2 linked regions of the Homo sapiens genome follow. The protein of the gene in region 2 purifies or fractionates together with the protein of the main gene of each other region. This does not show direct contact. Each region holds a gene or a part of one and is shown on either strand. Other genes may lie near its edges.

The links. Proteins that work in one complex are often made in the same cells at the same time.
Region 1: the proteins of ZNG1A (region 2) and PWWP3A purify together in Homo sapiens (affinity purification with mass spectrometry; 2 studies listed by BioGRID and IntAct, with this or other methods). This does not show direct contact.

Annotation. Positions count from the first base shown.
Region 1 is NC_000019.10:1,357,876-1,361,526, forward strand, and holds part of PWWP3A (PWWP domain-containing DNA repair factor 3A), read left to right. Parts: exon of another isoform or gene 1-100; intron 101-518; coding exon 519-589; intron 590-712; coding exon of another isoform or gene 713-735; exon of another isoform or gene 736-776; coding exon of another isoform or gene 777-829; exon of another isoform or gene 830-2,052; intron 2,053-2,260; coding exon 2,261-3,157; intron 3,158-3,651. UniProt on the Homo sapiens protein: Involved in the DNA damage response pathway by contributing to the maintenance of chromatin architecture.
Region 2 is NC_000009.12:165,517-169,167, reverse strand, and holds part of ZNG1A (zinc-regulated GTPase metalloprotein activator 1A), read left to right. Parts: intron 1-3,651. UniProt on the Homo sapiens protein: Zinc chaperone that directly transfers zinc cofactor to target metalloproteins, thereby activating them.

The DNA.
Region 1 (3,651 bases), on a different chromosome or scaffold from region 2:
TGTGGAGCTCCCCCTGCCCCACTCCCTCCTGCCTGCATCTTCAGAGCTGCCTCTGAAGCTCGCTTGGTCCCTAGCTCACACTTTCCCTGCGGCTGGGAAGGTAATTGAATACTCGAGTTTAAAAGGAAAGCACATCCTTTTAAACCAAAACACACCTGCTGGGCTGTAAACAGCTTTTAGTGACATTACCATCTACTCTGAAAATCTAACAAAGGAGTGATTTGTGCAGTTGAAAGTAGGATTTGCTTCATAAAAGTCACAATTTGAATTCATTTTTGCTTTTAAATCCAGCCAACCTTTTCTGTCTTAAAAGGAAAAAAAAAAAAAAACCATTCACCAGGGTTCTTGCTGCCTGTAACCTCAGGCAGATGAATTCCTAGTTGGCTGTGACTTTTGGTTTAAGTGGAAGGTTGAGGAGGAAAATGAAAATAATTCTTTTGTTATCTAAAGGAAAACATGTTTGAAAATGTCTTGGCGGCGTTGGCTGGTGGTGTGTAACGTCGATTTTGTCTCTGCAGAATTAAGGTGAAAAGCACTGAAGTTGAGATCCTAGAGAAGTCTCAAATTGAAGCCATTGCTTCCTCGTTAGGTAAGAGCGTATTTTTAAGTGGCCACTAGGTTTTCATAAAATAAGAGGTCATTTGGGAGAATGTGAAGGCTCAGCTTTCTGGGTAAAAATTCACCCTGTTCACCATGTTTTTCTTCATACAAGGGAACGCGAATCCCCTGAGCTGAAGGAGAAGGAAAAATGGATCCGCTTTCTTAAACCTTTCCAGAATTTGCCCCTAGAACCACTCCTATTCTTGACGCCCAGAATGGTCAGTGGTGAGCATCAAGGTCATCTCGTACCCCCGTGGCCTCCAGTACACAAGACGAGGAAGGACTTTGCTGCCATAAGGGGGGAGGTCCTCCTTTTTCCTTTCCTCTTCCTATAGTAAGATTTGCTGTGGTACTGTCGCTGCCTGGCCAGTCTGGTCTCAGCCCAAGGTTTGAGAAGCAGTTGGTTGTGTGTTTAAAATTCCAGAGCAGAGCCCAAGGGAGAGAACGGGTGGCCTGGCACTGGGGTTGGTGGCACCCATTGTTTGAGGCACTGTCATGGGGGGCACGAGGCAGGTCGGAAGTGGAGCTCTCGGCTTCCCATCCATCCGGGTGCGCTTTCTCCCAGGCCTTCAGTTTAGCACCCACCTCCTTTGCACACTGTGGGTGAGAAAAGCTTTGCCTGAGTCCAGCCGGGGACTGGTCATGCACATACATGACAAGTGAGGAGCACTGGTGACTGCCTGCCCCCTAGCCACAGTTGTGCAAACCCAAACCTGCCAGCCTTCCTTCTCAAAGTGGAACTGTTTATCCCATTTGCAAATAATTGTTTCTCTTGTGAAAAGATGGACCGGAATTCCTTCCAATGATGTTTATAAAATCAGGTCTATTTTCCTGTGTCTTCCGAAAAACAGCTCTTGTTTAAAGCAGGATCCATCTCTGCATAACTTAGGCCGGGCTGACCATCATCTTGGATGGCGTCGTCCTTGTTGGCGCAGATTGTGTTGGGGGGCTGGTTGTTTGTGGGCGCCTTTAATATTCAAAGGGGAGAATACTGTTCTGATTGAGGCATTATGCCCGCTGAGTTGTGATATTACATCCATCATCTTGTTCAAATAAATAGCGCCGTATCTATATGTCGGAATGAATAAATAAAAGTGCTGCAGCAGGGAGGTTGGGCTGGAAACCAGAGGCCCACGATGCTCTTTGCTGGCTTTGAAATGCCCTTGCAAAGAAGTATTGAAAATTTACCAGCCCACAATGAGTCTTTTAAATCTCCTTTTCCTTGCTACCACCAACCCCTGCACCAACCAAGAATACGTTGCCAGCAGAGTTCTTTATTTAGTTGGCATTGGTTTTTATTGACCCTGATTGAATTTGAAATTGTAAGGCTGAGAGAGGATTTGCAAAACATTTGAATACATTTTGCTCACGGTATTGTTTTGTAACTTGGAGGAATTTATCTTTTTAGCCAATCAGGTTAAGGTCAATAAATTTGGTTTTTAAAAAAATGAAGCCTCGAATCCCGGAATGAATAGCTGTCGTTCTGTAGCCTCGTCTCCTTTTTGGGAAAATGTAGGTGAGAAATGTTAGTCCTCCCCTTCAGTGATTTAGGTATGAAACTAGCCGTCAGAATGAGACAAGCGAGCTTCTAAAGCGATGCCGTGACCGCAGTGCCTGTGCAGTGAACGTAACCGGCATTGTGTATGTTCGGTCCTTGCAGCCTCACAGAATGAGGTTCCTGCGGCACCCCTGGAAGAACTGGCCTACAGACGGTCGCTTCGCGTGGCTCTGGACGTTCTGAGCGAGGGCTCGATTTGGAGTCAAGAAAGCTCTGCAGGGACAGGTAGAGCTGACCGGTCTCTGCGAGGGAAGCCCATGGAGCATGTCTCCTCGCCCTGTGATTCGAACTCCTCATCTCTTCCCCGCGGAGACGTGTTGGGCAGTTCCAGACCTCACAGGAGGAGGCCATGTGTGCAACAAAGCCTGTCAAGTTCGTTCACTTGTGAAAAGGACCCCGAGTGCAAAGTGGACCACAAGAAGGGGCTCAGGAAAAGTGAAAACCCAAGAGGCCCGTTGGTCCTCCCAGCTGGAGGTGGTGCCCAAGATGAGAGTGGGTCCAGAATCCACCACAAAAATTGGACTCTTGCAAGTAAGAGGGGAGGAAACTCAGCGCAGAAGGCTAGCTTGTGCCTGAATGGATCTTCCCTTTCAGAGGACGACACGGAGAGAGACATGGGGAGCAAAGGAGGCAGCTGGGCAGCCCCGTCCTTGCCCTCCGGGGTCAGGGAGGACGATCCCTGTGCCAACGCTGAGGGACACGACCCCGGTCTGCCGTTGGGCAGCCTCACTGCGCCCCCAGCCCCTGAGCCCTCGGCCTGCTCAGAGCCTGGAGAATGCCCTGCGAAAAAGAGGCCGCGCCTGGATGGCAGCCAAAGGCCGCCTGCCGTGCAGCTGGAGCCCATGGCAGCAGGGGCCGCACCATCCCCCGGGCCGGGGCCAGGGCCCAGAGAGTCTGTGACCCCGCGCAGCACCGCCAGGCTGGGCCCGCCTCCCTCCCACGCCTCTGCGGATGCAACCAGATGTCTTCCTTGCCCGGATTCCCAGAAGCTGGAGAAAGGTAAAAGTTTCTCGTGGAGGAGGAGAGCGCAGAGGGTGGAGTCCTGCTCCTCCGCAGCCAGACTGGGAGCCAGGCACGTGGGTGTTTTTGACCAGATTTTAATGAGATCGTTGCCAAAATAGACTTAGAGCAGAGACTTCCTCATTCCTTTTTGTCTGTCTCCCCACTGGGCTATAATTGCTTCAACTTCTAAATATTTGTCTTCTTATTTTTGTTTAGAAGGGAAGGGAGTTGAGTGAGTGGGGAGCCCGTAGAGGGGCGGCGGGCCACGATTGTCTGCGGCGCGGCTGGGAGCATTGTGGCTGTGCTGAGGCCGCAGCTGCGGCTGCACCCCGAGGATTAACTCTTTTAACGGAAGCAGTAACGCATTCCTATTAAATTGGGCAGCAATCTCAAAAGTGATTCACTCACTCAAAAGACTGACTTTTTAAAGAATTCCTGTGCAGATATATTTTTGTGTGGTTGCAGGCAAGCACTGTGACTTTTTTCCTTTT
Region 2 (3,651 bases):
CCCATGAATCACAAATGTTCTTAATGGCATCTAGAATGATGAATCCTTTCCAGAAGGTTTTCAATTTACTTTGCCCAGATCCATCAGAGGAATCACTGTCTATGGTAGCTATAGCCTTATGAAATATATTTCTTAAATAAGACTTAAAAGTCAAAGTTACTCCTTGATCAGTGGGCTGCAGAATGGATGTTGTGTTAGCAGGCATGAAAACAACATTAATCTTGTACATCTCCATCACAGCTCTTGGGTGATCAGGTGCGTTGTCAATGAGCAATAATATTTTGAAGGAATCTTTTCTTTTCTAAGCAGTAGATCTCAATGGTGGGCTTAAACTAAACCGTGCTGTAAACAGATGTGCTGTCATCTAGGCTTTATTATTTATAGAAAACAGGCAGAGGAGATTTAGCATAATTCTTAATGGCCCTAGAATTTTTAGGATAGTAAATGATTATTGGCTTCAACTTGAAGTCACCAGCTGCTTTAGCCTCTAACAAGAGAGTCAGCCTGTCCTTTGAATCTTTGAAGCCAGGCATTGACTTCTCTATAGCTATGAAAGTCCTAAATGGCATCTTCTTCCAAAAGGAGGCCATTTCATCTCCATTAAAAATCTGTTGCTGGCCGGGCTCGGTGGCTCATGCCTGTAATCTCAGCACTTTGGGAGGCCGAGGTGGGCAGTTCACGAGTTCAGGAGTTCAAGACCAGCCTGGCCAACATAGTGAAACCCCATCTCAGCTAAAAATACCAAAAATTAGCCTGGCTTGGTGGTGGGAGCCTGTAATCCCAGTTACTTGGGAGGCTGAGGTAGGAGAATGGCTTGAACCCGGGAGACGGAGGTGGCAGTGAGCTGAGATTGCACATTGCACTCCAGCCTGGGTGACAGAGCGAGACTCCATCTCAAAATAAATAAATAAATAAATAAAAAATAAGTCTGTTGCTTAGTGTAGCTACTTTCATGAATGATGTTAGCTACATCTTCTAGGTAGTTTACTACAGCTTCTATATCAGCATTTGCTGCTTTCCCTTGCACTTTTATGTTATGGAGATGGCTTCTTTCTTTAAATCTTGTGAACCAACCTCTGCTACCTTCCAACTTTTCTTCTCTAGCTTCCTCACCTCTCTCAGCCTTCATAGAACTGAAGAGAGTTAGGGTTGCTCTGAATTAGGCTTTGGCTTAAGGGAACATTGTGGCTTGTTTGATCATCTATCCAGACCACTTCATATCAGCAATAAGGCTGTTTTATTATCATTTGTGTGTTTACTGGAGTAGCACTTTTAATTTCCTTCAAGAACTTTTCCTTTGCATTCACAACTTAGCTAACTGGCTCAAGAGACCTAGCTTTTGGCGTATCTTGGCTTTCAACATAACTTCCTCACTAAGCATAATCATTTCTAGCTCTTGATTTAAAGTGAGAAACAGGTGACTGTTCCTTTCACTTGAACACTTACAGGCCATTGTAGGATATTAATTGGCCTAGTTTCATGTTGATCATATTCTTTATGTTGTCATGGTTCTGTCATAATTCTTTTAGTTCTATGTTTTAATAGTTTTGGTGCTTATTACCAGTACTGTTGCTTCTCCATTCCCGAGTTAGTCCATCTCCTGATTGAATTTCATTGTCAGGCAGTCTTTTCAAGTTACAGGTACTGCATGCATTCTTTGGGTTCTTATACACTTCATTGATTCAAAATATTTGTCTTTTGTTTTTATATTACTTGAAGGATTACTTGGCTAGGTATAAAATTTATCAGTCACACTTTATTCCCCCTCAACTTTGTAAATGTTGTTCCATAATCTCCTAGTGTTTGATTGGCTGGATTTCTTTGTCCAATGTTTTCTCTTTTTATTAGGAAGAATTTGTGAGTATTATAGTCTCTGAGTTTCAATGCTTGCTGTTTTCTTTAATGCTTGAGAATGTCTGTCTATTGCTTTCGTTCCTGAAAAATAACTTGTTTGGGAACACTTTCATTAGAACTTTGTGGTCCCTGTTTTATTATTTTGGGACATCTAGTGTTACTGTAGAAAAGTCTGATTTTTCTCCCTACCTCCTTGAAGGCAATTTTTTTTTTTAATCTAAAATGCCTGAGAGTTTTCTTCTTTATTTTTGAAATTCAGTAATATAAACAAGGTATATCTAAGTGTCACTTATAATCATTTTTCCCTAAATTATAGTATGCCCTTAGTTCTTCTAAGAACATTTTCCTTGTTTATTACCATGAATACTTTTTTTTGGTCAAATTATTAGATCCTCTACTTCATGACACCAGTTTTTTTAATACTGAATTTTCTTTTGTTGTTCGTATGTATTCTAATTGCTTTGATTTGTCTTTTACCTTTGCATTTACTGTGATCATCTGAAGCCTTTCTTTTTGTCAATAATTCTGTTTTCTCCAGTGTCTGTCCTGTTTTTGATATTTTAAATGAATTAATTGGTTAAGTCATTGTGTTATATAGGCTCTAAGTTTCTTTAGCGCTACAAACGCATTTTCATCTTATTCTGCTTCTTCTTGCTTTTGAGCTTGTTTATTATAAGGTTGTATTGTTTTCAAGTTCTTCATTATGATGAAGTTGTTGAGAATTTTCTTTAGTTTTTATTGGGTTATGTATCCTTCCAGAATGGGTTCTTTGCCACTTGTGTGCCCTATTCATTTCTTCATTTTGTGTTCTTTCTTGCTTTTTATTCCCTGTATGTGCGTGTTTCTTTTTGTCAGGCTGTAATACATATGCATACATGTTTCTTCTTGATGTGGGAGAACTTCTATGTGGTGCTGATGGGAAATATTTTTAATACTCCACTCTCCTTACCCAAGTTTGTTTTTCTCCTGAGCCCTAGTTTGAAAGCTGTATATTGTTGGAGTGGAGGGAAAGAGAAGGGAAAAGTGGTGATTCAGAGAGCCAAATGGGGCAATGTGGCTTTTAGGCTCTGCTCTCTTGAAGTACCAAGTATTTCACTCTTGGGTCTGCCCAACTGCTTATGAATAAAATTCCTTTGCCTTGTATGGGGACATCATTCGACCTCAGAGCTCTCATTTCTCTTTGTTCTGAGCCCTAGAATGTGACCTGACCTTCTCCTTCCCAAAGCAAAGAGATGGTTAAAACTCACTCTTGAAATTTTTTTGTTGACTTTTCCTTGTGTTGCTTATTCATTCCTCGGCTCTACTTTTTGTCATTTTGGAGTGTATTTCTGGTAAGTGTTTAGGATTTTGTAAACTATTTCCCTACAACCTCTTATTGGAGGTAGGGGTAGAGTTGGGAATGACCATCAATCACATATAACTTTGTTTCTTATTTTGACTATCAGTCTTCAAAATTTATGGCAGGCCCTTTTATATTTGGTTGCTGCTAATAAAATGTTGGCCTTTTTGTTTTATTTTTTGTTTTTATTTTTTGTTTTATTAGATTTTGAAGAAGGGAGATTCTAAAATGTAGTTCAGGTTTTCTCAGTGTCAGCACAAATAACATTTTGGGTTGGATAATTATTTGTTGTGAGGGGGTTGCCCTGTGCAGAGTAGGATATTTAACAACATCCCTGGCTTCTACCCACTAGATGCCAGTAGCATTCCCCTAGTTAAGACAACCAAAAACATCTTCAGACATTGCCAAATATTCCCTGGGGAGAAAAGCACCCTGATTTGAGAGCCACTGATCAATTT